Linked DNA regions of Homo sapiens: region 2 is linked to region 1. Evidence: fine-mapped expression QTL. A gene starts in region 1. The other region holds a variant in brackets. All regions are shown on one strand. Distances are from middle to middle. Region 1 holds the start of FAH (fumarylacetoacetate hydrolase). Region 2 overlaps FAH (fumarylacetoacetate hydrolase).

What was found. PIP is the estimated chance that this variant, and not a neighbour inherited with it, causes the effect.
Region 2: its variant is fine-mapped to the expression of FAH in atrial appendage (GTEx, PIP above 0.99). The same link has a PIP of 0.9 or more in left ventricle.

Annotation. Positions count from the first base shown.
Region 1 is chr15:80,150,192-80,154,575 of GRCh38, reverse strand. It overlaps FAH (fumarylacetoacetate hydrolase), which reads right to left and starts at 1,577. Exons shown (of 14, transcript NM_000137.4): 1 at 1,441-1,577. The coding sequence starts at 1,521. RefSeq lists a silencer at 1,589-2,148.
Region 2 is chr15:80,176,108-80,180,426 of GRCh38, reverse strand. FAH (fumarylacetoacetate hydrolase) reads right to left here. Exons shown (of 14, transcript NM_000137.4): 11 at 2,844-2,890; 12 at 202-303. Among named protein-coding and RNA genes, the nearest start is that of FAH, 25 kb to the right of the region's middle. The variant G/A (reference allele first, on the strand shown) is at 1,935.

The sequences.
Region 1 (4,384 bases):
CCTGCAGAGAAAGCTTCAGAAGAGGCTTGTTCAGCTGGAAGGCCAAAGGGCCAACTCTCCACCCCCAGCACTGTATCAGAGGACAGCGGAATGGGGCTCTCTCTTCCAGACATCTGTAGTGGCTGCCCTGCACATTCTGATGTTGAAACAGCGGGACATGGTGTCTGAAAACACCTAGCCACACTCTAACGGATATTAATTCGATTCCCCTGAGAAAGCAAGTCAGAGCTCCCTACTGGGGTGTGCCTGCCTCTCACAAATGTTTCTGTCTAATGGATTTGTGCTCCCAGGAAAGGTGAGGGAGGACACATCTGCCGAGGGCAAAGTGTTTGAGGAGGGCAGAGGGAGGGCTCTGTCTGCAGAAAGGTTGTTGGCCATCACAAGTTAAGATTTAATGTGCCTCAGATTGTGTCCTCCAGGGGATTGAGTGTCCACTTTCTGTATCCTTGCAACATCTGGTCAGCCCGGCCAGATGTGAAACCACAAGTTGACTCTTCTAGACCAAAGCACTTACCGCAGACAGGCCCACAAAAGGCCAGCCACTTGCATCCAATGACAAGCCATGGGGGAAGGAGGGAACCCCACTTTCCAAGAAGAAGCCAACTGCCAGGCCCCTCGTTTAGCAAACATTTCCTGATTCTGGGGTTCTATGGCTTACAGAGATGAATCAGGAGTTTACCTTTAAAGTTGGGAGCAGAAATCTAAGCCAAAAATATCATCAACAAATCCAAGGGAATCTGCTTTTCCAACCTAGGGAACCTCTTATTATCTATTTGCTGATAAACCCCCAGTTTTCAAATACTTCTTTCTACCAATCAGACTACACTGACTTAGTCAAAGTTTGTTTCCCTGCCCTCTTTCTTCTGATCAGTAGGGGAATGCCAGGGAGCCCACACCAGGAGCTGAAAGAATTTCAGCTATAGGCAGAGACACTTGCCATCTTAGATCTCACAACTCTAAGCCAAGAAACGCGCGTGCCCCTCTGACCTGCTACGCATACCGGGTTATCATTTCCCGGGTTCTAGGGTTAGGGGCTATCCAGCGAGATGAACCACCAGCCCTGACCTGGCCTCTTGGGCGAGAGAAACACACCGCAACCACCTCGGAGTAGGCAGCATGCCTGTGTGCTGCAGCTTCCGGTAACAGAATCCTGCTTGCTCTGCTTGTCTGGGAGAGTGACACGATTCATTTCATTTTGCATTTAATTCTCAGCAAACCTGCGGACAATGAGGCTGAAAAGTTAAACAACGTGCACAGCTAGAAAGTTACGAGGCGGGACTCGAGCCCATAGGCACTCTCACGGAACGAATCTTAAGAGAAAAATGGCACAAGCCTCCATCCCGCCCCTCATTCCACTCCATTCCACTCCACTCCACTCCACTCCACTCCACTCCACTCCACTCCCTCCCCGCGCCCGGACGCCAAAGCCCCACTGCTCACGTCGCCTCTGGTCGAGAAGACGCCGTAGGGCAGGTTGTGGATGGGGAAGTCGGAATCCTCGGCCACCGGGATGAAGGACATGCTGAAGAGCACCCGGCACGGCTGCGGGCCTAAGGTGGCGTGCGGAGAGCAGGACTGAACTCGGCCGCTGTGGTCAGGCCCGGCCCCGCCCCCCTGCCCGCCCCCACGGCCTGTCCGGGTGACACAGCAGGGACCCCGGAGGCTCCTACCTGACTTTTGGTCTCACCGTGAACACCCCGCCCCCGAACCCCGAGCCCTGCCCCTCCCCCCTACCCTGACCCCCGCCAGCTCCAGGTCCTCCACAGTCTCGCCCGCCCTTCCAGAGCCCCGCCCCGCCCCTGGCCCCGCCCCCGTGGGCCTCAGGTCCTCCAGTCTCTCCTCCCTCCCTGAGCCCCGCCCCTCCCCTTGCCCCGACCCCGCGAGCCCCAGGTCCTCCACAGTCTCACCCTCCCTCCCTGAGCCCCGCCCCTCCCCTCGCCCCGCCCCTCCCCTCGCCCCGCCTTGCAAGCCCCAGGTCATCCAGTCTCTCCCTCCCTCCCTGAGCCCCGCCCCTCCCCTGGCCCGGGTACCCGAGAGTCCCAGGCCCTCCAGTCTTGCCTCACTCCCCGAGCCCCGCCCCTCCCCTGGCCCCGCCCCCGTCCTGATCCCCGCCCTGTCCGCGAGTCCACGTGGGGGAGATCTGGTTCCAGCCCCCGCTCGGGGCAGCTAGCTGGTCCTACCGAGAGCAAACCCCAGCTTAGCATTTAAGGCTCTGCCCTGCATGACTCCAGCCTCGCTCGCCCCGGCTGCTGCCCTGCTCTTCAGCTCAACAGAACTCTTGTCCGCTTCCTGGAAACACTTTCTCCCCAAGAGCTGCTCCCTGAGCTTCAGAAGAACACCCAGTCGCGTCCTTTCTGCCTTCATACCATGATGCTCCGTCCAGCTATGACACTTCCACTTGTATGTCAGAGAAGGGGACAGTTAGGCCTGTTTGGAAGGCTTCAATTAATGAGAATTAATATTCTAAAAAATATAACTCACCTGTTTCACATGCCAGTAGTAAAATGACGTTGACAAGATGCTCAACCTTGGACAAGTTACTTAAACTTTCTCTACCTCAGCTTCCTTCTCTGTATAATGTTGATGATAATAGTTCCTACTTCACAAAGTTGATATAAGAATGGAATGAATTAATATTTGTGAAGCACCTAGAATAGTGCCTGGCATATACAGGTTATGTGTGTGTGGAAAGAGAGAGAAGGGAGGGAAAAAGAGGAAAGGAGGGGAGGGGGATAAAGGAAAGGAAAGATAAAAGAGAAATAGGAGAAGAGAGAGAGGGAGAAAGAAAAGAAGGAAGACAGGAAAGAAGGGAAAGGCAGACTATCTTAGGGTGGGTTCAAGGTGTTATCTAATCACTCATGTGCAGTCAGCTGCAGTTTTTTGAGACCATGCCACAGCCAGGACACTTGGAACACACCGGAGAGTGTGTCGTTGTGTTATTGTTGGTGTGAATGATTCAGGTACACTTTTAAACAGCCAGGATGCCGGCTGAAATCTAGAAAAGTAGACGATAGTCTGGGCAAGGGTTCCCTGAAGATCCTTGAGGAATGTGACACAGTGACTGCTGAGTTAGGGAGGCTGCTCCGCATTTCAGCTTAGGGAGAAGAGGCTGGAAGATGGCAGGATAATGTGAGCTAAGTGGGCTTGAAACCAGACGGCTTGAGAGGAGCGAGTACGGCAAGCAGGGCCCGCTGTTGAGCCCCCCTTCCTAGCCCCTGAGATCACTCTGGTGCCTGTCCACCAGGCGTGACCAGTGATCATCACCCAGTAAGGAGTGTAATCTGGGCACAGCCTCTTGGCTCTCATCTCCTGCCCTGAGTGGCTCTGCCAAGGACTGGCTTCAGTTCTTTTAAGTCAGCCCTGGGGAGGGAATGAAGGTGGTCTGATTTGTTCTGGTAGGTTCCTGAAAGAGGAAAAGAAGAGGAGAGTATCCCAACTTGGTGGCCTTATAAAGAGGCATTCCAGGGAGCACTTGATACCTGCCTAATTCAAGCTAGTCCTCAGCTGCAACGCAATGAATTATTTCCACGTTCTGTAGTTGCCCTGCCCCTTCCCATTAAAACCACGAGCTTTCTTATTCCATGTGCAACTCTGTCAATACCCAGCAAAACACCTGGCACAGAATAGGTTCTCCATAAATACATGTCATTAATATAAAACTGTTGACCAAAAGGAAATGAAGCAATAACTAATAAGCCCATGCCCTATGCCAGGCCATGGGGATACACCAGCAACTCACATCTTTAATTCCTGTTTTTATGGAGCATGTGTTGTGTGGGGGATGCTAGGCCAGGAGCTTCTACTGAATACATACAAGTTAACAAAAGCCTAAATGATAAAACCCTTGGAGAAAGAAAACCAAAGTATTTTAGGGAAAGGACATGGGGCAGATGTATGTGTAGGAAAGGGTGTGGGGATGAGATGGCTAAAGAGGGAGTAAGATTTCATAGTTTTAAAATAGACTTAACCAACCCACTAATTATACACAGTGTCTGAAAACGCCAAAGCTGTTCTCTATTTGGAAAACAGCATTTGAAATAACTTGCAAGTATACTATATTTTTTCTTTCTCATTTTTTGGAAGAGAATGTGTTGGCCACGTATATCACAACAATTATTTAAAAAGAATTTTAAAACAAAGAGATTGCCCATAATCCCACCAATGTAGTCTTCTCATTTTCATGTTTTTTTTTCATTCCATTTGTATGCACATGGCTTTTCCATCCTTATAAACTTTACATAGATGCAATTTTTCAGTCTTTCCCTACCTTATTCTCTTGAATATTTTTCCTTGAGGCCCAATAGGCTTTATTATGATCATTGTCATTAGCTAAGGAAGTCGCAATGTTTTAGATGGTAATAATAACGGTTCAATGAAGAGGTGC
Region 2 (4,319 bases), 26 kb before region 1:
CACACCAGTCTCTTTAGGTTTGAATTTGGATGAGAAGTCCCTCCTGCACCCAGAGAGAAAGGCTACGAGGAAGACAGAGTTGTGAGATACACCCACCTCGGGCCTGAAATCTCTTCTCGAGGCTGAGCTGAGGGCCCTTGGGGCTGTGTGGGGAGCAGGGATGCTCTGCGTGGGCAGCCCTCAGTGCAGCCAGATACTCACCGGCCCGCTGATGGTCCCAGAAGCCAGGAGGTCCCCCGGCCGCAGGTTGCAGCCGTTGACAGAGTGGTGAGTGAGCTGCTGCAGCATCGTCCAGTACATGTACTGCAGGCAATGGACGCGAGGTGGAATGAGCAGCGGCAGGCTTAGCCTAGCATCCCGGAGGCAGCTGGGCACAGCCTGCCCTGCTCACGACCGCCTTCCCTGGCCTTTCCCCGGTCCCCAGCTCCCCCAGCCAGCTCTCTCCAGTCCCTTATAGTAAGGACACATTGTCCTCCTGGGGAGCTGCCCAGAGACCTCCCCCAAGCTCTTCCATCTCCTTCACAAACTCCAACCTCAGCTCCTCTGCTACCTCAAGCCCACACTGACCACCTTCTCCAAGCAGCATCCCCTAAGGGCTGACCTTACTGCTCAGTCCCTCAGCCTGCAACATGCCCTTGTGTACAACACTCCACTCTGCCCTGGGAACACCCTCCAGTCCCGTATTGGGAGAATCTAAGTCCACACCACAGCAGAGGCTTCTCGTGAGCAAAGCCCTCGCTCCCATTCTCCCATGCCGGGCCTTGGGATGGACACTGGGCAATGGAGCTGAACGATTCAAACACGATGTCAGGGCAGGCCAAGGAGCGAGGGAGAGCTGTGGGCGGTCAGGCTGTGGGCAGAGGGGGCCAAGGCACCACGTGCCCACCGAGACGCTCAGATGCAATGCACGCCCATGCCTGTCCCAGGCCACAGCTTCTCACATTGCCATTCCTACAGCCACACATCCCGGCATAGGAAACCCAAAAGATGGATTCTTGCCCACGAGCCCCTGCAAGGAGGCCCCTTAATTTCTTCTTACTAGCCCTAAGGAGCCCAGAATAATATTAAATTAGAAGGGAAATTAGGGAAACTAGAAATAGTTCAATGATTCAGAGGATATTCAAAAGGCCAAGAAACAAATGAACCATAAACATATGACTAACATGCCCAGCTGCATTAGTCATTAGGGAAATGCAAACTGAAGTCACAATCCCAGGCACGGTTTGAACGAAAAGGCAAACACCACCAGAGCTGACGAGGATGTGGAGCAGGCAAAATGCTTACATGCTGCTAGTGGGAGTATATACTGGTATAACCACTTCAAAAAACTGTTTGGAAGTACCCCTAGGCTGAGTCTATGTGTACTCTATGACCCAGCAAGCCTATTACTGGATATACACTCAATAGAAATGTGCACATATGTGCACCAAAAGGTGTGTACTAAAATGTTCACAGTAACTCTGTGATAGCCAAAAACAACGGAAACAACCAAATGTCCATCGATTGTGGAATTGATGTGACTTACAAAATAAGTCAGTTGGCCGGGCGCAGTGGCTCATGCCTGTAATCCCAGCACTTTGGGAGGCTGAGGCGGGCGGATCACAAGGTCAGGAGATCGAGACCATCCTGGCTAACATGGTGAAACCCCATCTCCACTAAAAATACAAAAAAAAAAATTAGCCGGGCGTGGTGGCGGGCACCTGTAGTCCCAGCTACCCGGGAGGCTGAGGCAGGAGAATGGCATGAACCCAGGAGGCGGAGTTTGCAGTGAGCCGAGATCGCGCCACTGCACTCCAGCCTGGGCAACGAGCGAGACTCCATCTCAAAAAAAAAAAAAAATTAAGTCAGTTGTGGAATATTTATACAGTGCAACACTATAAGGCAATGAGAAAAATGAGCTGTCACTGCAAAGAGCAACAGGGTTGAATCTCACA[G/A]ATCTAACACTAAAACAAAGATGCCAGCTACAAAAGAATACATGCTACTTTATGATGCCATTTCTATAAAACTGAAAAACAGAAAAAAAATAATACATGGTAGCAGAGGTCAGGAGAGGAGTGACCTTTGCTGGAGGGAGTGATGAAGTGACCTGGAGGGCCCCACGGGGCTGCTGAGGTGCTGGAAATTTTCCATTTCTGATCTGGGTGCTGGTTGCACAGGGATGTTCATTTTAGGAAAATTCTTCAAGCTGTACATGTATAATATGCACTTTTTTTAATTTTTATTTTTTGAAATAGGGTCTTGCTCTGTCACGCATGCTGGAATGCAGTGGTGTGATCATGGCTCACTGCAGCCTCGACCTCCTGGGCTCAAGCGATCCTCCTGCCTTAGCCTCCCAAGTAGCCGGGACCACAGGTGCATGCTACCACGCCCGGCTAATTTTTTTACTTTTTGCAGAGACAAGGTCTCATTATGTTGCCCAGGCTGGTCTCAAACTCCTAGGCTTAAGCGATCCTCCCACTTTGGCCTCCCAAAGTGCTGGGATTACAGTAATGTGTGCATTTTTATCTATGTATATTATGCTTCAATTAAAAGTTCACTTAAAAAATAAGTCACTCTCATCAATACAGCCCCTGGCAGGACAGGATAAACCAGGAACTAGACCTTTACAGGAACACCTATTTTCCCCCAAGAAAATCACTGGCCACATTTATGCAGCCTCTATCTCGAGAGAACTCTGTGACCCCATGGCCACTCCTAAAAGAGACAGGCCATGGAAGCTCCAGGCCCACAGGCTGACCCATCATCATATCCCAAAAGGAATGCTCTCCTCCTGTTCCTGCCAGGAAGAAAAGTCTCTCTTTCCCTCAATTCTAAAAAGCAGTCTGATCAGCGTCAAAGCTTACCTTAAAATTGGACTTGCATATGGTAGCCGCCTGGCTCATTCCTTCTCCTGTTGGAAAGAAAAGCAATATTGATGAAAACTTAATTCCATGCATCAGGGAGGAAAATAAAAAAAGAATTGTTCTGTGGCTGAAGCTTCCCATTGTCCAACATGATTTCACTTAGAGTCTGTGAAACAATTAGCTCCTAGGACATCAGAGCTGGGAGGTCCAGGGTTGGCCAATACATGCACACAAGTCATCACTTCCTCCTCCCACGCCTACAGCAGGCAGCATTAATTGATCACAGCACATGTTTGCTCTGAGTCCATATGTAGCCTCAGAATCCTTCTTAACACAGTGATCCTGGCACCCGCAAATCCACTAAAGATAGTGTGCCATTTGAAAGCTACTTGTGACCTTTGATCAAGGATAACCTGCTGTCCCCTCAGGAGTCCTCTGGATAGCTGGGTCATCTGTCCCCTGCCGAGCTCCTCCAGTGATGGGCAGTGTGCTACTTCACAACGTACTAAACAATATTTACTAAACATCTACTACATGCAAGGTACCGGGCTGTTGCCGTTCCACTTCTGAACAGCACTAATAAGTAGAAAGCTCCTCTGCTCCCTCAAAACCTGGCTTCCTCCCTTGGTCCTAACTTCCCCTCTGAGGTGGCACAGAACAGGTGTGCTCTTCAGCCATGCGAGGTCTGGGTCTGCCAAGGCTGCTCCTCCCCAGACCCTTTCGCCCAGATCCCAACTCAGAACATCAGAACTGCAAATGCAGGACTACATCTCTGGACACTGTGCTTTCTGGATAATCTTGTCCCTTTTCTACCAGTGGCCTCCCCCGGGCGGGCAGGTTCACCTCTAGGCAGCCAGGAATACTGAGGACAAAACCAGATAGAAAGTATACTCCAAGCACGCATTGTGGGTGGCAGGAGGCCAACCTAGAACTTGTGACACACTTGGATTGAGTCCCAGCCCTGCCATTAGCCAGGTAGGTGGCTCGGGGTGAATCCTTTTCCTCTCTGAGCCTCAGCTTCCTGACCTGGAACCTGAAAGAGCGGGCCCAGCACAGCTTCCCAGAGGGCCCTGGGCAGCCAGGAGGCTCTCTGTGACAGCTCTTTCTCCATGGAGCATCCTGCTCCCATGGCGACAGCTCCTGCAGTGTACTGCGCCTCCTGACAGGAACCACCTCATGAAGGGCCGAGACCCTGGAACTGACAGTGAGACAGACATGGCAAAGCCTGGAGTGTACAGACAGAGCAGACAGAAGAAAGAAATGGAGCTGGCCGGGCATGGTGGCTCACGCCTGTAATCCCAGCACTTTGGAAGGCCTAGGTGGGTAGACCACCTAAGGTTAGGAGTTCAAGACCATCCTGACCAACATGAAGAAACCCCATCTCTACTAAAAATACAAAATTAGCCAGGCATGGTGGCGCATGCCTGTAATCCCAGCTACACAGGAGGCTGAGGCAGAAGACTCGCTTGAACCCAG